Linked DNA regions of Homo sapiens: all the other regions are linked to region 1. Evidence: fine-mapped expression QTL. A gene starts in region 1. Each other region holds a variant in brackets. All regions are shown on one strand. Distances are from middle to middle. Region 1 holds the start of THEM4 (thioesterase superfamily member 4). Region 2 overlaps THEM4 (thioesterase superfamily member 4). Region 3 overlaps S100A10 (S100 calcium binding protein A10). Region 4 overlaps LOC124904421 (a long non-coding RNA gene).

Region 1 (5,473 bases):
TTTTGTATTTTTAGCAGAGACGGGGTTTCACCATGTTGGCCTGGCTGGTCTCAAACTCCTGACCTCAGGTGATCCACCCACCTCAGCCTCCCAAAGTGCTGGAATTACAGGTATGAGCCACGGTGCCCATCCTATGGCAACTACACCTCAATAAAGCTGTCTACAAAATTAAAGAATGGTGAGAAGACTATTAAGTTTCATACCATTGGCTTATTCGAAGCCTAGTTCTATCAAGATTGAACATTTGTTCCTTGCCTAAACCATACAAGCTTCAAACTCCTTCACTTCCATAGCCTATCAATCCTATTTCTAGACTGTAACCTGCCCTTCCTCTTCCAAATCTGACCAGACATTTTATATGTGCTGTCAACACGAATATCCCAGAGTAAGCCATGCAAGAGTGTGGATGACTTAACTAAATGCACTGCCGCTACTTGAAAAATTTAGAGTTAAAATTTAATGAAGTTTAAACTCAGTGTAACTGACCTCTAATTGCCCTAAGTCTAAGGTCTTTTAAGAAGCTGATAGGTGCCGAGTGCAGTGGCTCATGCTGGTAATCCCAGCACTTTGGGAGGCAGGCAGATCACTTGAGGTCAGGAGTTCAAGACCAGCCTGGCCAACAGGGTGAAACCCCGTCTCTACCAAAAATATAAAAATTAGCCAGATGTGGTGGCACGCGCCTGTAATCCCACCTACTCGGGAGGTTGAGGCAGGGAGAATCGCTTGAACCCTGGAGGCAGAGGTTGCAGTGAGCCAAGATCATGCCACTGCACTTCCAGCCTGGGCAACAGAGTGAGACTCCATCTCAAAAAAACAAAAGGAAGCTGTTAGGTGAGCTATTGGTACATTAATCATATAGACAATCTTAGCAGGGTTGAAGTCTATAGGTATTGATTGATTTGACTACACTGTAAATTGTAAATAGATGCAATTTTAAGTTACCTGAATAAACTTTTCTATTCATTAACAGTAGTCATCTCAATTTTAGAGATTTACGTTATGCTCGTGCCTCCATCTGCACGCACAACATGGGAAGACAACAGACACCAAAGATACTTTGGATTCTTGCTGCTAAGTAAGTATTCAAGCACTACGTGCACGTTGTTACAATTAATAAGGCAATCTGACCCCATCCCTGCCACCAGGAAACTGCAATACTATTAATATATTAAAAAGGAAGACAACTGAGATAAAGGGAATGTGGGAGGTTGGGGGGGGTGCTTAGGAGATATCAGAATACAACCTCTTAGAATTACAGAATCTCAACAACCATCCTTTATGCCTGATCTTCGGTTCAGTAGCTCTAGGATTCCAAGGGGCCCCTCCTAACTGCATTGCCTTCTCTCCCCAATTCCCTTTCTCTCAGAATGTTACACCTTCCCCCAGTTAATAGTGTAGGCTTAAAATGTATCTAGGTGTTCTTACCTACTGACAAACTGCTGGAGTTGTTCATGGGAAAGGAATCAAGGCAAAATATCTAATGCATTCAGGTCATTCGAGTTTTCTTTTTAATTTATTGCTTTTTTGAGATGGGGCATCAGTATGTTGCCCAGGCTGAAGTGCAATAGCAGTATCTCTGCGAGACTCTGTCTCAAAAAAAACCCATTAGAGTCTTCACCTTAGGATGGACTAGGGCTATGGCATACTGGTAAGCATTTAAAAATAAAGGGGTATGATGGCCCGGATTTGCATTATCTGAGTAATGGGAATACTCCAACCCAGTCCGATTTCAAGGTCCCAGTGAGGTTACTGAATTCGAAGCTCAGAAGGTATGCGCCTAGTATTCCCACCATACGAATACAAGCGAGGTAAGTAACCTCAAAAGCATCGATAACAGTAAAATAGTTACAATACCTGTTACGCCTTTAGTATCCATTACCTTCGTTTAATTTAACTGTCAGTTTACATAACAAAAGAGTCTTTTAAGGCGTAAGCGCGCTCCTGGGGAGGGTATGGGGCTGTTGGCAGGGAAAGCAGCTTTTCGATCGTATAAATGCTCTTTGTGCCCAGACTGCCCTCTATAAATCAGCACTATCAACCCTGTCCAGAGACTTGCCCATGACCTCCAAGAAAACACTTTATTCATACTACTCCTAGCGTGCGCTCCTACCCGCCCCAGGGACTTCAGTCTTCCGGGGGAGGGATAACTACTTGGGGACACGGAGCACTGCGTACGCCCTGGGTCATGTGGGAAGGATGACCGCAAAGCCTCCAGTCGGCGCGCGGGTTCCGGGGCTGAGGGGCTGAGGGGCCCAAGGCGATAACCGGGATCCGCTCCGGCCGCGCTCCTCTTGCCTTTGAGAAGCCCCGGAAGTGGCCCGGCTGTTGGCCGCAGCGGGAGGTCTTCGGAAAGAAAAGGCCGGAACCAGAAGATAGACTCAACAGCGATGCCCTACCCGGACCCCGCCGGCCTCACACCCCGGCCAGCCAGCCGCCAGTAGTGCGCACCGCCTCCTCCCCAAGCCCCGCCCTGCGTCCACCCCAGGGGTTAACTCGCACGCGCGCTCTTGTGGCGGAGGTAGAGTGCGCCGTCCAGGGCTAGAGCAAGCGCGGCCCCGCGGCCCGGAGCCATGCTGAGGAGCTGCGCCGCGCGCCTCCGCACGCTGGGGGCTCTGTGCCTGCCGCCAGTAGGCCGGCGCCTGCCGGGAAGCGAGCCGCGACCCGAGCTGGTGAGTCTGGGCACCCTCGGGCATGGGGCGGGAGCAGGACTCAGAAACACGCCTGCGGTAACAGAGCCTTCGATTGTTATCCATACCCCAACCAGCCAATCTCAGAATAAAAGCTCACCTGGGCACCACAGGGCAGCATAAGCAACAGGGGCCTAGGAATACAGTCCTGAGATTCAAACCGTTAGAAAAGGGATGGAAAGGTGACCCCGTTTTTTTGTTTTTTAAGAGACAGGGTCGGCAGGGCGCTACCTGAACTGCATAATTTAGTCTGTCTATTTATATTTTGACAACATCTGTATTTTACCAATAATATTTGAGGCTGTTTTTATTTTTCAAAGATTAAAGTGACGTGAACTAAAAGATACCACAGCTTTTATCTTCCCTTTAAAAAAATATTTGATCCAAACGCTTATCTTCCTTTAGGTCAATTAATTAGAGATCTTTTTATAGACATCACACACAACACATATATAACTACACAGACAGGCAGAAGAAAACCCAGTTGCCATAAGATCTTTCATCACAGGGAGAGGGATCTATCTGCTTTTAATTCCTGGGGTTCCATGAGGAAAACAGAGATCGCCCCTCTTATGCAGGCATTAAAAGTGGCAAGGCAAAATGGAGAAAAATAACTCAGTCGACCGCAAAGAAACACTTTTTCCAGCAAAATAAGGTCCAAGAAAAGGAAAACATAAAGGCCTTATAAATATAATTACAACTTAGATATCTACTTTTAATTAAGCTGAGCACTCCTTAAGAAAATTCTTTTAACACCCTTATTATCTAACTTTAGCTCCACCAAGCGGCCAATATTTCTGGCTTTCAAACTTTACTTAAAGGCTCAGAGAAAGGAAAATCCAAGGTGGTTGGTGGAGGGCAGGGGAATCGACAAATAGCGAAAGGGCATACAGATACCAAACCAGAAAGGACTCATTCCCTAAGCCAGGATGAATCTGGGCCATGCCGGGCTAAACGAAGCTATGCAATGGGGTTACAGGCCACGCCCCCAAGGACGTAAAACAAGATGGAGGCCTGCAGCGAAGTTTGCTGTGGAGCATACAGAAAGACATGCAAAACACACAGATTGGCTACAGCTTACGACTTACCTCACAAATCCTTTCGCACAAAACTTTACAGAAAATATAAACGGTAATCCTCATCATTCCCAAAAGAGCAAAACGTCTTCCAAAAGGAAAAGAAAAACCTCCTTTAAAAGTATACTGCTGATGGGTTGGAGAGGAGATAAGGATGCCTGGGGGAAGAACCTCTTATTCCTATGCAAATGGTTCCTCCACCAGAGAGAGGAGCTTAATTGCTGTGGGACAGAGCTAGACTCCCTGGAATGGGGAGGGGGAGACTGCAGGCACCTGGTAGGGAACGCCAGCCAGCCATGCCGGCGCCTTGGAGCCTGGGCAGTGGCTGTGGCTCATTTATGCCCTGTGTGGCTACTGGACACCACACACACATGCTGCAGACACCACCATGCACCCCAGCCAGTAAAGAAGTGGGGCCAGGGAGCTACCCCACCCAACTGTCTTGTGAGTGCACTGGTGACCATTGGGGTGGGTGTGGACCACCTCCAGTATCGTAAAAAGAAAAATAGGTGCCGTTGCTGTCCCCCCAAAAAGAAGAGGAATGCCATAAGACCAAAAGGCTCAGAAATGAAAGTGAGAGGTTTTGAGTCCCCATTTCACTCATCCTTCTGTTGCAGGAATGAAGGAGGACTGGAGAGGCCATGGGGTGAGACAGGAGAACTTTATTGAGTGCACTCAGACCCAGCGGACTAACATCCAAAAGCTGGGCCCAGAACAAAGACAGCACTTGACTTTAATACACACTTTTAAAAGGGGGTGGGCTAGCTTGAAACAAGCTTACAGTGGCGTGAAGCATAGTGGCGTGAAAGCAAGGATACAGAGGCAGCACAAAGGCAATTAATTCATCAAATTGTGACAGGTGCATAATTCAGGATTACATACTGTGTCGGAATTGATGGGTTCTTGGTCTCACTGACTTCAAGAAAGAAGCCACGGACCCTCGTGGTGAGTGTTATAGTTCTTAAAGGCGGCATGTCCGGCGTTTGTTCCTTCTGATGTTCGGATGTGTTCAGAGTTTCTTCCTTCTGGTGGGTTCATGGTCTTGCTGGCTCAAGAGTGAAATTGCGGACCTTCGTGGTGAGTGTTATAGCTCTTAAGGCAGCACGTCTGGAGTTGTTCGTTCCTCCCGGTGGGTTTGTGGTCTCGTTGGCTTCAGGAGTGAAGCTGCAGACCTTCGCGGTGAGTGTTACAGCTCATAAAGGCAGTGTGGACCCAAAGAGTGAGCAGCAGCAAGATTTATTGCAAAGAGCGAAAGAACAAAGCTTCCACAGTGTGGAAGGGGACCCGAGCGGGTTGCCACTGCTGGCTTGGGCAGCCTGCTTTTATTCTCTTATCTGGCCCCACCCACATCCTGCTGATTGGTAGAGCCAAGTGGTCTGTTTTGACAGGGCCCTGATTGGTGCATTTACAATCCCTGAGCTAGACACAAAGGTTCTCCACGTCCACACCAGATTAGCTAGATACAGAGTGTCAACACAAAGGTTCTCCCAGTCCCCACCAGAGTAGCTAGATACAGAGTGTCGATTGGTGCATTCACAACCCCTGAGCTAGACATAGGGTGCTGATTGGTGTGTTTATAAACCTTGAGCTAGATACAGAGTGCCGATTGGTGTATTTACAGTCCTTTAGCTAGACATAAAGGTTCTCCAAGTTCCCACTAGACTCAGGAGCCCAGCTGGCTTCACCCAGTGGATCTCGCACTGGGGCTGC
Region 2 (5,473 bases), 22 kb after region 1:
GCATTTAAACCACAGTTCTTCCAAGAAGGATTTCCGTCTTTACCGTACCATTTTATTCAGTATATTGTTAGCGTTTATATACTATATTCCTGATTGCCATGTGTGGGTACTTCATTTTGATTTCATGTCTGTTTACTCTGTCCCCAGTTGGACTGTTAATTCCACAAGGGCAAAGATCCTATCTTCTGTTTCATTGAGACGCTCCCATTCCTTTCAATTTTGCACCCTGTGGACATTTGAATCAATCATCTATTGACATGTGATTCTAGCAGGGTACAGGTGCTTGGCTCTGCCATGGCATTTCTCTCACCCTTGTTTCTCATTTGCCATCCACCTCATTTTCTATAGACCCAAAGCTTATGAAAGAAGAACAAATGTCACAGGCCCAGCTCTTCACCAGAAGCTTTGATGATGGCCTGGGCTTTGAATACGTGATGTTCTACAATGACATTGAGAAAAGGATGGTTTGCTTATTTCAAGGAGGCCCTTACCTGGAAGGACCACCTGGGTAAGAATGATAGCCTGAAAGTGTGGATCTAAAAGATTTTTATCTTACACTGCCCCCATGTGTCCTGTACATGGACTACAATAAAGATTTTCAAATGGTCACATAGATGTATATTTATTGACATGGAAAGATGTTTATAATACATTATTAAAGGACATCTTATCTATATTATTAATATTGATTAAATATTTTTATATATGAGCATTATAATATTATAGGGCATAGGGCAATAGAGTATAATTTGAGAGCATATCATTAATGTGTTAACAGTGGCTTGTCACTGACTAGGTGGGTAGTATTATGGGTCCTAAATTTTTTTCTTTTTTTTCATATTTGCATTACCTACATTTCTAAACAATGAATATGTATAGTTTGTTTTGTTTTGTGAGACAAGGCCTTGCTCCTTTGCCCAGGCTGAAGTGCAGTGGCATAATCATAGCTCACTGCAGCCTCGAACTCCTGGGCTCAAGCAATCCTCTCACCTCAGTCTCCCGAGTAGCCAGAACTACAGGCACATGACACCACACTTGACTAATAATAAAAACATAATATAAATTTTCTAAATTACATTTTAGCTTTTTGCTTGCTTGCGATCTGGTTACTATTAAGTTCTGGTTTTATTACAAATACTTAAGACTATATTATTATGCTGTGAACAAAACAAAGTTGGGGACATAGATAGTATTTGGCATTCAGTACACTGAACATGGGCTAAGTGGACCTTTCATAAGTAAATAGTGTGAAGATGCTTGGATAATTTTTCTCTTTCAAGAGGCTCTCTATCTTCAGAACTTCTGAAAACATTTCTCCTCCACTCCTGTTGTAACTAGATTCATTCATGGAGGTGCCATTGCAACCATGATTGATGCTACTGTTGGTATGTGTGCAATGATGGCTGGGGGAATCGTCATGACTGCCAATCTCAACATCAATTATAAAAGGTAAATTCACAGTAATTCTCTATTTATCCTTAGGTGTTGTTAAGTCAGGTTCCCAGTTGCAGATCTTGACACCATAATTTGTGTTCAAGTGATTATTAAGGAAGTGCTCCCAGAGGAGACTAGCAAGGGAGTGGGAGAAGCAGGACGGGGAAGATGAAGAAGTGTCAACCAAGGCTGAACTCTCAAAAGTCCAGCAAAGCATAGCTTTAGCCAGATCATACAAGAGAGCTCTAGAATGAAATTTATGCCTCAGAATTGTCTCCATCTCAGATGAGGGAGCTAGAGTCTTTATACTCTCGCATGTATTGGTCATAGGATCAGGGCCATCCCAGGGACCATAAATTTCCAAGTACTTCTAAGGGTCTCTGTGTTTGAGCAAAGCAGACTCTAGAGAAAATAACCAAAACAAGTGAAGAAAGGATCCAAGGGGCTCTGGGTGGAGCACCAACATCTACTACATAACAAAATTAATTTTTTAAAAATTTAGCTGGGCCCAGCAGTGCACGTCTGTAGTCCTAGCTTCTTGAGAGGATTGCTTGAGCCCAGGAGTTCAAGGCTACAGTGAGCTAGGATCATGCCACTGCACTCCAGGGTGGGCAACAAGACCCCAACTGTAAAAAAAACAACAACAACAAAAACACACACACACACACAAAACACCGAGTCTTTTCAGTCCACAGGCACAGATGTCTTTCCATTTATTTGTGTCTTTAATTTTTTTCATCAATGTTTTGTAGTTTTCAGTGTATAAGACTTTTGCTCTTTGGTTAAGTTTATTCCTATGTATTTTATTCTTTTTGATTTTTTTATTTTTAATTTTTTTATTATTATTATTATTATTTTGAGACAAAGTCTCACTTTATTGCTCAGGCTGGAGTGTGGTGGCATGATCTCAGCTCATTGCAACATCCACTTCCCAGGTTCAAGCTATTCTCATGCCTCAGCCTGCCAAGTAGCTGGTATTACAGGCATGCACCACCACAGCTGGCTAATTTTTTGTATTTTCAGTAGAGACAGTGTTTCACTTTGTTGGCCAGGCTGATCTCAAACTCCTGGCCTCAAGTGATCCGCCTGCCTTGGCCTGCCAAAGTGCTGGGATTACAGATGTGAGTCACTGCACCTGGCCTTAATTGTTTTCTTAATTTCCTTTTTGGATTAGTCATTGTTTGTGTATAGAAATGCAACTGCTTTTTCTGTGTTGATTTTACATCTTGCAGCTTTGCTGAATTTGTTTATTCATTCTAACAGGTTTTTGTGGAATCTTTAGGATTTTCTATATACAAAGTCATGTCATTTGTAAACAGATCTTTGTACTTCTTCCTTTCCAATTTGAATACCTTTGATTTCTTTTTCTTGCCTAATTGCTCTGGCTAGGACTTCTAGTACCATGTAGAATAGAAGTGGCAAAAGTGGGCATCCTTGTCTTGTTTCTGATCTTAAATGAAAAGGTTTTAGTCTTTTACCATTCAGCATGATGTTAGTTGTAGGGTTTTCATAAATAGCCTTTATTATGTTGAGAGAGTTTCTTTCTATTCCTAGTTGTGCCTTAGATTTTTAACCTTTAAACCCAGATTGTCATTGTACCTCCTTTTAACAATTTTAATAGCAATTACATTGATTCTAGAGATTAATTTGGGGAAAGTTGACATATTTACAGATGGTCAATATTTCATATTAGTTATAACTATAAATTAGATT[C/T]TAGAAATCTGGGTTTTCTTAACATGTTAAAGAATATATTAAAAATTAAATTTTTTATATTTTTCCATGTCCCATGTTTTTAAAAATATTTTTCCATGTTCAAATAAAGTTGAATAATGAAGTATAACATCGTTCCTAAAAAAATAAATGTAAACGGTTACTTTGAAAACAAGCTGAAACAAAGTATTTAGATTGCTGTTTATCTCAAAAAGTGTTTGTGTCTTAAGCACATACTCAAATGCAAAATGGGAAACAGAACCTGCCAAACTCTATGCTTAGTGTTTGTCCCACCCAATAAACCATCCACAAAAATCAGTTGCATTGCTGTTCATTTGTTCCCCACAATTGGAAAACATACTGAAAAGAAGTTTTACCTGAAGTCATATGGATAGAGAGCAATTTAGTCAGAATTAGAACTCACATCTTATGACACCAAATCTGATGCTCTTCACTACAACACACAGCCTCCATTGTCTTCTGTTAGTTGATGACTAAAGACCAGAATAAAGTATTGGATTTTATAAGTAGTTTAGAATTTAATATTTATCACTCTCTGTTTTTTTGTATACAGTTATTTAGGTTCATAATAATAGTAATAATATTAAATTTAATATGATTACTTGACAGTCCTTCAAGATGCTACAGGTAACAACCTGGGATTATATTTTAATTGAAAATAATTTGCAGTGTCAATTAATCATCAGATGCCTTAATCTACCTTACTTCCTTTAAGAAGCAAGATTATTCCTTAATGATTTCAAATAATTTCCAGCCCTCTGATCCAAATATCCCACTTGATTTATTTCCTTGTGCCTAGCACATTAAGATAAATAGACAAAGCAGGTCAAACTAGTGATGACAAGCCAGCTGAAAGGGTAAATATCTCAGCATGCCAATGACCCATTCATGACACATGAGTTGAGAAGCTCCTGATTCGATTTCTTCATGCAACATGGCAAACAAGAAATGCTAAAGGACATTCCTCCTTCAAAACAAGTAGATCCTGTACCAAATACACAAGGAAAGAAACTACCAAGGGTGACTATCAACAGAAACAATAAATAAGATTTAGACCTCAGGGATCTAAGATATGATGATAATCAAATACACAATATAAATGAATAAAGTATGAGATGTTTAAAGAAATAAAAGATGAGGCTGGGCACAGTGGCTCACGCCTGTAATCCCAGCACTTTGGGAGGCCAAGGCGGGTGGATCACCTGAGGTCAGGAGTTCAAGACCACCCTGGTCAACATGGCAAAACCCTGACTTTACTAAAAATACAGAAATTACCCAGGTGTGGTGGCACGTGCCTGTAATCCCAGCTATTTGGGGGGCTGAGGCAGAAGAATCGCTTGAACCTGGGAGATGGAGGCTGCAGTGAGCCAAGATTGTGCCACTGCACTCCAGCCTGGGCAACAGAGCGATACTCCATCAGAAAAATAAATAAATAAATAAATAAATAAATAAATAAATAAATAAATAAATAAAAGATGAAATCACAAAAAGAGAAAACAATGATAAACTATAAAAATTATTAGGCAGGTTTGCCACAGAACCTAATAAAACTTTGAGAAATGAGATTGTAGGCCGGGCATGGTGGCTCACGCCTGTAATCCCAACATTTTGGGAGGCTGAGATGGGCAGATTACAAGGTCAGGAGTTTGAGACTAGCCTGACCAACATGGTGAAACCCCGTCTCTACTAAAAATACAAAAATTAGCTGGGTGTGGTGGTGCGCACCTGTAATCTCAGCTACTTGGGAGGCTGAGGCAGGAGAATCACTTGAACCCAGGAGGCAGAGGTTGCAGTGAGCAGAGATTGCACCATTGTACCCCAGCCTGGGCGACAGAGTGAGACTCCATCTCAAAAAAAACAAAAAAAAAACAAAAAAAAGGAAATGAAAGTGTAATTGTTTAAAAACAAAAAAATACCTCAGTGAATAGGTTAAAGGACTATTTAAACACAGCTGAAAGTGAACAGAAATATAGAACTGAAGAAATTACCCTGATAAGATGGTATGCTGGTAAAGGTCAGAACATTTCCTCTGAATTTGCTAGAAACTCAAAAGCTGTGGAATGTCATTTCTTTCTCTCCATTTTCCTATTATAACTACCCCGCCTTGTGGGCAGTCTATATAGAAAGGTTTCTTTGATACCTGACTGATGTAAGAACAAGAGGGGTAAATGTGAATTCTTATGGATAGATAACACAGGAGTTACTTCTAAATATCACTCCACTGCAAGAATTTAAAAGAAAGCTTTAAAAATACACTCAATAGTTTTCTTGAAAAGGGAAAATGACAATCCCTAGGCTTCTGGGTTTT
Region 3 (5,473 bases), 71 kb before region 1:
ATAAGCTTTTGATTTTTGTATTGTTTGCATCCCCTTGCCCTCAATAAATAAAGTTCTTTTTTAGTTCCAAATTTGAGACAGAATGTTTGTTGTTCCCTCAGAAATTCTTGTTCCCCAAGAGGCAGCTTGCCCTTGGGCAGCCAGCACACAGCAGAGCTTTTCTTACACAGCAGAGCTTTTCTCACAGAACTGGCAAAATGAGAAAACACTCTTCATTCAGGCTTGGAGTCTGACTTCTCTAATTGTTCTGCCCTTGTAGCTGTGTCTATATGAAGGACTCAAACTTGAAGGATTAGGAGAAGGCTCTACAGGAATAGATGGTAAGTTTATAATTACTGGGCACAGTTTTGCCCAGTTAAATCAGTGCTTTTCTAGCCAGCACTTTGCATGCCTGCAATGTCTGAATCCAATTTTCATAGCAAAGTGTCAGCAAACCTAAGGCAGAACTAGGAGAACCAATCAGGAGAGGGTGTAGCTTGACACCTTGGTAATAACATCACATTAGCATCTATTAAGTCAACTCCCAGATGTCAGGAAATATGGTAGGCATGACTTATACACGGGGCAGTACACTTTTGTTGAAAATGAAGTGTCAGTACTGATGTCTTGATAATCAATGCAAAATGTTCCTCCTAGCCCTTTTTTGTGCCTGTTAGAAGCTTCAGGGTATATGTGCATCAATGCTATATGCTTATTAATAACACAGTACTCTATGCTTTTATGGAGAGGTGATATATGAATTCCATGAATTGGCACATAGCATTGTTCCAAGTAAATAGGTCAAAGAAGATGGAATATTTACTTTTTTTTTTTTTTTTTGAGACGGAGGCTTGCTCTGTCACCCAGGCTGGAGTGCAGTGGTGCAATCTCGGCTCACTGCAAACTCCACCTTCCCAGGTTCACACCATTCTCCTGCCTCAGCTTCCCGAGTAGCTGGAACTACAGGCGCCTGCCACCATGCCCAGCTAATTTTTTGTATTTTTAGTAGAGACGGGGCCTCACCGTGTTAGCCAGAATGGTCTCGATCTCCTGACCTTGTGATTTGCCCGCCTCGGCCTTCCAAAGTGCTGGGATTACAGGCGTGAGCCACCGCGCCCGGCCTGGAATATTTACTTTTTTGATTGGACACATCAATATTAACTCTGGGAAAAACTTCCATCTCACTCTGGGAAAAAGTGCAATATAAGGTTATCGATAGTCACAAGGAAAAGCATGCAAAAGAGAACAGGATAGTTCAAAACTGGCTTTGGTAGAAAGAAATCCATAATAAAAAAGGAAAACATTCCAACCATTTTATTTTTTCTCAGTCAACAAATGAACAGTGTAAAACAAACCATAGCTTTGCGGCTGAAGCATTATATCAGCAAGTTTACAAAGAGGAATTTATTACGGGAGTATTAATGAAGGAGGGGAGTTGATTAGTTAAAGAAGTGACTCTAGATTGACTCCAGGAATGACTTCCAAACCCATGCTACAGAACTGGGCCGCCAAGGAGCTGCTGGCTCAGGAAGCTGCCTGCTGAATGAGGAGCCATAGCCACAGCTGGCTGCTCCAGGACCATGGCACAGTCTGCACAAGCAAACGCACATCCCCATCACCCTCCCTCTTTCCACATACGGCTGGGCTCTCATATCCAAGTCTCAGTGAGGTGCATCTGACTGGCAGAGCCTTAACCACAACAAATTCCTAACCGCAAGGGACTCTGGGAAATAAAGTTCTAACATTTTCCAACCTTTGCACATTAGCAGCTGATTCTACCACAGTGACAATTCCTAATCCTACGTGAAGTCTTCCAACCTGGAAGTTAAAGAAATTGTGGCTCTAAGGAAAGGAGGCTCTGGAAGATGACGTCTGTAATAGAGACAAGAAAAAAAAACTGGCCCATCACAGTAAGGCAATCCATGAGAATTTGTGTCAGTCCAGATTCACCCCTTTGGTTAACCTGCCTCCTGGGCAACTGTGTTTACTGGGTATTAGGAGGATTAGTGGTCAACTCACAAATGAATGGGGAAGATTATAAAAGGGAGATATTATGAGCTCACATGTCCTGAAATCCATAGCAAACTTTCACACTCTAAGCCTCTTTTACCTGAAAACAAAAACACAACTATCCCAGGAGGAGGGAGGCTCTCAGGGTAAGAGAAAGGAAGCATCAACTCATCTTCACAGTGGGTGTGTAGATTCAGAAAAATTCTGAAGCAATGTGTTATTCCCAGCAGATTACCCCAAACTCTCATTCAGAAGGTGCCCAGTGCCAGGAAATGATCTGAGTCACTGTATTTGGGATGGATGTGTATGTGTATTGAGGGAAAGGGTTATGGCACCTTCCTCGCTTTGGCCTCATTGCTCATTTAGTAGGGAGCTGTATGAGGAAAATAAAAATGGTATTTATGGCTTGAAATCCCACATGGCTCTTTGTGCCAACAAAAACACACGGATCCCACAATCTGACCTGCTAAAACTGCTGTCTAGGCTTCAGGGGTTGCAGCCCAATGGCTCCCAAGGGGCAAAACTGCCATTATGCCAACAGTCATCAAGAGGAACCATCTGGAAAATTCCACTCATTCTGCTACATGGCTGAGTTGTAAAAAGTAGATCCCGCCCCTCCCCACACCCAGTTACAAAAAAAGAATGAATAGCAGTGCAGAAAGTCAGTTTCCAACACGCTGCAGAGCTGACCCTGAAAAACATCATTTTTCTCTCTTGGACCCACTCCCTTGTCCAAGTCCCCTGAACAGCGGCCAACTACCTGTGATTTAATAGTTTTCTACCTAACCCATCTCACTAGGAGACCGAGGACAAGTCTACAAACCTCTCTCATTCAAATTTGACCAATTCGTGATTGGTCAAGTAATTGTTCAAGTCCCTTCTCCAGCTCTTAACCCCACAGGGATAGTTGTGAATAGAAAT[T/C]CATTCACTTGGCAAATATTAGCAAGGGCTACCATGTGAATGGCACCAAGCAATGTTCTGTATAAAGGCAGGTACGAAGAAGCAGATGACCACAGTGCCTGCTCAAGAAGATTACAATCTAGATTGAAAGATAATAGATAAAGCAGGCCAGGCGCGGTGGCTCACGCCTATAATCCCAGCACTTCGGGAGGCAGAGGCGGGCGGATCACGAGGTCAGGAGATCGAGACCACGGTGAAACTCCGTCTCTACTAAAAATACAAAAAATTAGCTGGGCGCAGTGGTGGGCGCCTGTAGTCCCAGCTACTCGGGAGGCTGAGGCAGGAGAATGGCGTGAACCCGGAAGGCGGAGCTTGCAGTGAGCCGAGATCATGCCACTGCACTCCAGCCTGGGCGACAGAGCGAGACTCCGTCAACACAACAGAGCATTGGCAAGGGAGACATGTGATGGGCACCTCTGGTCACTGTTGATAGGTATGTAATTCACACGACCTTTCAGAAAGGCAAAAGTTAGCAATATGTACCTGAATCCTTTAATGTGTTTTCTTTGACCCAGTATTTCTATTCCTAAGAATTTCTCTTAGCAAAATAATCAAAGATACTTATGATATTCATATACAAAGCTATTTGATGCAGCATTATTTAGAATAGCTAAAACCTAAAGAAAACCTCAATATTCAACAATGGGGTCATGGTTAAATAAGTTATGTTTAGATTGTTTAGATGTACATGGGATGCTATATGGCCCATCAAAACCATCACTTTGAAAAATATTAAATGAGATGGGGAAATGTCTATGTAAAGTAAAGCAGACTGCAAAATTGGTATATAATCGGATTCCTTTCTTTTCTAAATATGCGTGTCTGCTTGAGTGCATGCCTGCAAAGACACACACACACACAGAGAGAGAGAGAGAGAGAGAGCAAGAGTGAGAGCAAGAGCAAGCGAGCGAGAGAGAGAGAGAGAGAGAGAGAAACTAAAGGGAATACACCCAGCTGTATTTAGTTTCCAGAGTAGGAGTTACTGGCCAGGGAAATTGTTGCTCCAGAAAGACGTTTATGAGACTATTGTAATTTTCTTTATATACAGTGCTATATTATCTTAATTTTCTATGCAATTCCTTCCTAGCCCACCTACATGCACTTGCACTTTCACAATCCATAAAATTTTAAATAATATATTTTGAAAGAGCCTGTGTATTTATTGAGGGTCTACCATGAGTCAGGACCTGTATGAGATACTTTTTAAGCATTTATCTTACTTGGACCTCACAATAACCCTGTGAAGGTATTATAACATCCATTTTACAGATGACAAAACTAAGACTTAAGTAACTCCCTCAAAGTCCCACAGCACTTATTGTTTCAAGATTTAAACCCAGATATCAAGATAGTCTCCTTCCTTCCTTCCCTCCTTCCTTCCTTCCCTCCTTCCCTTTCTTTCCTTTTTTTCTTTTTCTTTTTTCTTTTTTAGAGTAAAGTGAAAAGCAAGGAAAGGAATAAAGAGTGGCTACTCCATAGGCAGAGCAGCTTGTATTCTGCAGTTGTCTCAAGGGGCTATTTGAGTAAATTAACTATCAACTGTGTTATTCTTTCAAAAAAGTAAGAGATTTCGTGGGTTAGATGAGGCTAGTCAGATAAGATTTTGTGTAAGAGATAAGATGTTATCTGGTCTTTGAAGATTGGAAGAAATTTAGATTTGGATACCAGCTAACATTGAGTTCTTACTACATTGCAGGCTCTGTTCTAGTGCTTCACAAGTATTAACTCGTTTGTTCCTCCCAACAACTATGAAGTAGGTACTATTACTGTTCCCACTTTACAGGTGATTTGACCAAGGTGGAGGCAGGATTTGAACACAGGTGGTCTAAGATTTTAGCCACTCTTCTCTGCTGCATCCCTGGACGTAGTAATGATGGAGCAAAGGAATGTCCAGGACACAGAAAACTCAGGAGGCCACGTAGAATCCAGCATGTCTAAAGTGGTGTATGCTCACTGCAGAAAGTGTGTGTAGGTGGGATAGGACAGGCAGGAGGTGTTAAAGGAATGATAAATGGAAAGAATAAAGGATATGTTGTGGGTGAGTTTGCTCAATAAAAATCTCTACAGGTCCTAGGTTTGGGTTATTACTACTCCTTCGGGAAAAAGAGGTGGCCCTCGTCTAAAAGGAGACAATCAGACAGTATGTTCTTGTGAATGTTCAACCCACTTTTCTCCATTGCTCACATTCCAATCACATTCTGGCTACAAAAGATAAAACAGGGATGGGATTCACTTTTATCTTTCTGAGAAGCTCTAAGTACAGAGGAAAAAAATTTGACCTCTGGCAAGTCATGCCAAAATTGAGAGGGAAAAAAATCAAGATGATAGGGCCACAGCGTCTAGGTGAGAAAAGCCTCTGATAGAACATTAGCTCATCTAGTTTCCCACTGAGATTCCAACTCATCTGAAAAACGGTATGTTCACTCTAATGGTAGCTACTGTATATTTTTTTAAATGCATGAAAGTGGGAATTAGCCAGGCGTGGTGGCGCATGCCTGTAATCCCAGCTACTTGGGAGGCTGAG
Region 4 (5,473 bases), 24 kb before region 1:
ACAAAAATTAGTTGGGCATGTTGGTGTGCGCCTAGCTACTTGGGGAACTAAGGCGAGAAGATTGCTTGAGCCTGGGAGGTCGAGGCTGCAGTGAGTTATGTTCATGCCACTGCACTCCAGCCTGGGTGCGAGACCGTCTCAAGGAAAAAAAAAATTGTTAAGTGCTCTACAACCCTTGTGATACCAGAAACCAAGGGAATATAAGTAATAGTCTTGTGATAATCTCCCGTTCTTTATTCTCCCCACTTTGTTTTCCCCAGCCCTCTCCATGATGAAGATGGCTGCAGTTTCCGTGGTTTCTGCTATGGAATGAAAAATCCTACAGGCAGAGCCCATGCTTCCTGCAGCTGCCAGCTCTGCCCTGCCTCCTTCCCCTCCCAGCTCCCCTGTGAGAAGCACTATCCTCAGAATGACTCAACCTCATTTTCCAGGAGGGTCTTAGAACTCATTGTACTTTTTTCTTGCAACCGTAAATTTTCTGCAGTTTGTTCACCTAAAGACTTTTCACATGACAGGTTTCTATGTCTTAGAACCTACTTTCTCTGATCCTAATCCCACTCAGGGGAGGACACAAATATTGCACTTCAGTCACTTTTAATGTGTCTGCTGTACAATACCACCTGGCAGAGTACCCAAAAAGCAACAACTCAAAATCTAGCCCACCAGATATTCCATGAGATTTGATGGTGATGAGCACTGCAGTCCAGGGTTCAAGGAAAGCTAGGATGGGTATTCCTCATGGTAATTTCTGAGCAACTTTGAGTCACTCAACGTATTTCATTGTCTTCTAGGCGTATTTAGTCTTTCTATTGAATGTAAGAACTGGACAGAGAGGTGGGGAGCATCTTATCGCTCACTTTGCAAAAGAGGAAACAGCTCTGAGGTCTCATTTTACGTATCTATTGACTATTTTATACTCAGTTTGGAAACAAAATGATAAATAATAGAGCAATCTATCACTTTGTAAAATCTAGAAGACTAAGCTTTGAAGTTCTTCCAAGTCCCTAATTAGATAATAGTCATCACTTAAAGAATAAACTGTTAGGTATTGAGATAGATATAACCTGTTCATTTATTGACGAATATCAGCCTAAAAGTTTACCAGGAAATAATTTAAAATGTATAAAATCTTCCTAATTACTCAAAGGAAATTTATAATAGTCAAAAATTTTACCTACTAACCAAAAATCCAGAAGATTCAGGACAAAAATAAATGGAAGAATAGATAATTATCTAAATACACTTGTGGAGGTCAGAATAATGGGCCCCCAAAAAGGTCCAAGTAAGTCTCTGGAGTCTGTGAATACGTTACCACACATGGCAAAAGGGATTTGCAGATGTGATTAAGTAAGGATCTTGAGATGGGAAGATTATCCTGGATTACATGGGCAGGCCCAATGTAATAACAAGGGTGTAGGGTGCAAGGAAGAAAGGTGCGGAAGAGTTACAGAAAATGGGACGACAGAAGCAGAGGTAGTTTTACAATTGCTGGCTGAGGGACCAAGCCAAAGAATGTGGGCTCCCTCTAGAGGCTGGAAAAAGGAAGAAAACAGATTCTTCCCTAGAGCCTCTAGGAGTACAGCTCTGCTGACACCTAGATTTCAGCCCCCTGAGACCCACTTCAAATTTCTGACCTCCAGAACTGTAAAATAATAAATTTGTGTTGCTTTAAGCCATTAAGTTTGTAATAATTGTTATAGCAACAAGAGGAAACTTATACACACTCTTTTGGCTCTTTCGGGTTAATGTGCAGTTTTGGTGACAACATACTGATCAAAATTGTCAACAAATTATGTGATCTCCCCCTTGTGTATAGTCAGTGGTATTATAAGGTAATTTCAAAAGAAATGGAAGAAAAAAGTTTTTTAAATAAATGGAAAACAGTTACTATTAATATAGTCTGATTGGAAAGGTTAAAACCACTTGGAAAGGTTAAAACTTTATGGAACATATAGCTGCAAACAGTTCCACACAAAAACAAAAACAAAAAAGGCTACAAGAAATCTGGTGCTATTCCCAATGCCTTTCTACACTAGCTGGTGAAATGTCACAGTTGTCAGTGGACTATTACCCATGTTTAAAGCCCATCTCTCCTCTTGCAGAGAACCCAGACTTAGAATCTCAAGCAAAACAATGGCTTGCATTTGAGAAAGAATGTCTAATAAGAAAACATTTATATTGTTGGTGCTGCCTCTCAATATCTATCAAAAAACTTTATGCAAGATTATCTGAAGTATATATAAGTCACAGTACATGTTTCTCTGAGGCCAGATTACCAGAAAGCTGAATAACTGTACTATATTGTTTTGCCCCCTCTGCTGGGTCGCCTCCATTCCCTTTGAATTTCTTTCACTGAAATTTGATGCCATCAGCTTAATTAAGAGACATTACATGGTTTAGCCCTGTGAGACTTTTGTTGTCTTTACAGTTAGGATTCTTTGAGGTTGTTATTTGTTGTATTACATAGAATCCCCTCCATGAAAACCCTTGCATAAATCCATGTGTTAAGGTGTCTGTACCAGAAACAGGTAAGCCGCTTCTAAGCAGAGGGTCATTCTTCTTTTTAACGCTCACAGAAATATAATACACATGGCACTACACAGCTGTCAAAAGCTATGGAACTATACAACAAAAAGAATGAGCCCTAATGTAAGTTAAGGACTTTGGTTAAAATATCACTGCTGGCTCATCAATTGTAATAAATGCACTACACTAACGCATGACATTGATAATAGAAGAAGCTGTTTGGGTTTGAAGAGGGTAGGGGTAAATAGTAATTCTCTGTACTTACTACTCAGTTTCTCTGTGAAACTAAAACTGCTCTAAAAAATAAAGTCTATTAATTTAAACATATATATGTATATATATATACACATATATATGTATATATATACACAAAAGCATATATACATATATATGTGTGTGTATATATATATATATATATATATATATATATATATATATATATGCACACACAAAAAGCAAAGTACACTGTAGCATAGTAGATTCTGGGAAGATGGCAGCAGCAGGGGCAACAGCATAGGTGTTCAATCTTTCCTAATCCTAACACAAAAACAAACGAGCAACTTGCTATTGTCTGAATGTT[A/T]GTGACTCCCCTGCCCCCAAAATCCACATATAGAAAACTAACTCCCAAGGTGATGATATTAACAGGTAGGGCCTTTGGGAAAGGATTCTATCATGAGGGTTCTGCCCTTGTGGGTAGGATTAGTGCCCTTGTAAAAGAAGCTCAAGAGAGCCTGTTCACCCCTTCTGCCATGTGAGGACACATGGAAGGCACTACCTATGAAGAACAGGCCCTCTCTAGTCACTGAGTCTGCCAGTGCCTTGACCTTGAACCTCTCAGCCTCCACAACTGTGAGAAATAAATTTCTGTTGTTGGTAAATTACTCTCTCTAAGGTATTTTGTCATAGCAGCCTGAACAGGCTAAGTCTCAACTAGATAGCAAAACCAAACCCTACAGACATTTACAAAAAAACAAATGACAAAGTATTCCCACGAGCCTCAAAATACAAACAAGTGGGGACAAACCAGCAGTCACAAAACTTGCATGGTTTCTGCATCAGTGTGTGAGGAAGAAGAATGAAGAAATGGAGACAGTGTCTGATGGACCTGAGAACTCTCCAACAGTAATAGGTATGGAAGACACAGCTGAAAAGGGAAAGATCTGATCTCTCCAATAGGAGGTAAGTACAAGAGGCCCACAGTAAGGACTTAAGAGGGCTGGAGCAGTCTGGCCCCTATGAACTCAAAATTCATTTGCCAAGGCTCCCTTCCAAGACAGGGACCCATGCTAGGGAGAAACTACAGGGAATGCAGTTTTTAAAAATGAGGAGTACAAGGACAAGAGAGATGATCCAAAGAGAAGGTCTTTATCCAAGTTAAAGAGAACAGCCTGGAATCTCAGAAAGCAAGCTTCCACGCCAGACGCGGTGGCTCACACATGTAATCCCACCACTTTGGGAGGCTGAGGGTGGGTGGATCACTTGAGGTTAGGCATTCAAGACTATCCTGACCAACATGGTGAAGCCCCTTCTCTACCAAAAATGCAAAAATTAGGTGGGCGTGATGGCACACACCTGTAATCCCAGCTACTCAGGAGGCTGCGGCAGGAGAATCTCTTGAACCCAGGAGGTGGAGGTTGCAGTGAGCCGAGATCATGCCACTGCACTCCAGCCTGGGTGACAGAGTGAGACTCCATCTCAAAAAAGAATAAAATAAATCAAATAAATAAATTATCTTGTGAAAGTTATGCCAAATAGTAGAATGGCTCTAGATTACTAACTGGCTAAACAGAAAAGTATCTGTGCAGTTGCTGGCACTTCTTGTTGCCCTTGGAGAAATACATAGAGTATTATAAAGACTCAGTTATAGGGGATTAATAAACAGGCTGCTTGGTTAAAGTGAGTAGACTATTAATCTAACTCATTATTTGATCTATTTGATTTTAGTTGGTTTGGTTCATGGGGACCCTGGCTAAGGAGCATACACCAAACTCTTGGCATTATCCTTTTGATAGTCATAATAGTAGTCTCCCCGGTCTGCCGTATTCCCTCAAAACTTTTAGATATTTGCATGCAGCCATCTCTAGAGTGTTAAATGGTCTCTCTTCCACTAGAATGAGAAGAGCTGAGAGAAATGTGTGACCATGAGGGCACTGTAACCTATGAATGACATGCTGAGAATGAAAACCCAAAATGATGGTAACTGAGAGTAGCGTTAAGGCTCTAAGTTTTGGTTATACTCTCACCTAAGGGAGAACCTGACCAAAAGCGGGGAGTTTTTAAACAAAATTATGAGTGGCCATTGTTTTGGACTGAGCTCAGGCTCTAGGCCCCAACAAACCAGATCAAACCAAAGTGGAATAATTCATGCTAAATGTGACACATCAAACTAAGACTTTAAGAAACAGATAGATCCTAAAACAGACCAAGTTTTATTTTTCTCCTGTAAACAGAAGATTCCAGCATGAGGAGGTATCCTCTACTCTAACCCTTACCAAAAAAATAATCTGAAGTTCTTGTTCCCACCTTACAAAACCCACTGGTCTGCTATTTATCAGTGGGTTTGAAGACCAAATAAGTACATTTATGATGGTGACAATGACTAAAGTTTTGGTCAATTTCTCAAAATTGAGAAGATGACCAAAATAAGGAAACTGTTAAATCAAGTTTAGCCTAAAGCTGCCTCCTTCCATATTTTAAGTTCTCCCTAAAAGTTTCTCTGTACACAGTATACTATAACCTAAATGGAGGTTAAACAGATTGTAACCTACTCTCCTGACAATCACAGAGTTTTGGCCAAAGGTGGCCAACTGTTCAAACTGTGTTTAAATTAGGCAACACTGAGCTGTAACCAATCCAGCTATTTCTGTACCTCACTTTTGTTTTGTGTATATCATGTTCCTTTTTCTGTCTATAAATCTTTCACCATGTGTCTCTGCTAGAGTCTCTG

What was found. PIP is the estimated chance that this variant, and not a neighbour inherited with it, causes the effect.
Region 2: its variant is fine-mapped to the expression of THEM4 in whole blood (INTERVAL, PIP above 0.99).
Region 3: its variant is fine-mapped to the expression of THEM4 in whole blood (TOPMed, PIP above 0.99).
Region 4: its variant is fine-mapped to the expression of THEM4 in whole blood (TOPMed, PIP above 0.99).

What each region holds. Positions count from the first base shown.
Region 1 is chr1:151,906,556-151,912,028 of GRCh38, reverse strand. It overlaps THEM4 (thioesterase superfamily member 4), which reads left to right and starts at 2,518. Exons shown (of 6, transcript NM_053055.5): 1 at 2,518-2,669. The coding sequence starts at 2,571. RefSeq lists enhancers at 1,546-2,133, 2,122-2,241, 5,233-5,473 and a silencer at 2,482-2,791.
Region 2 is chr1:151,884,249-151,889,721 of GRCh38, reverse strand. THEM4 (thioesterase superfamily member 4) reads left to right here. Exons shown (of 6, transcript NM_053055.5): 3 at 349-508; 4 at 1,339-1,449. Among named protein-coding and RNA genes, the nearest start is that of THEM4, 23 kb to the left of the region's middle. The variant C/T (reference allele first, on the strand shown) is at 3,148.
Region 3 is chr1:151,977,513-151,982,985 of GRCh38, reverse strand. S100A10 (S100 calcium binding protein A10) reads left to right here. Exons shown (of 3, transcript NM_002966.3): 3 at 1-71. Among named protein-coding and RNA genes, the nearest start is that of S100A10, 14 kb to the left of the region's middle. The variant T/C (reference allele first, on the strand shown) is at 2,911.
Region 4 is chr1:151,930,241-151,935,713 of GRCh38, reverse strand. All of the region lies in intron 1 of LOC124904421 (a long non-coding RNA gene), which reads left to right. Among named protein-coding and RNA genes, the nearest start is that of THEM4, 23 kb to the right of the region's middle. RefSeq lists a silencer at 5,276-5,325. The variant A/T (reference allele first, on the strand shown) is at 3,107.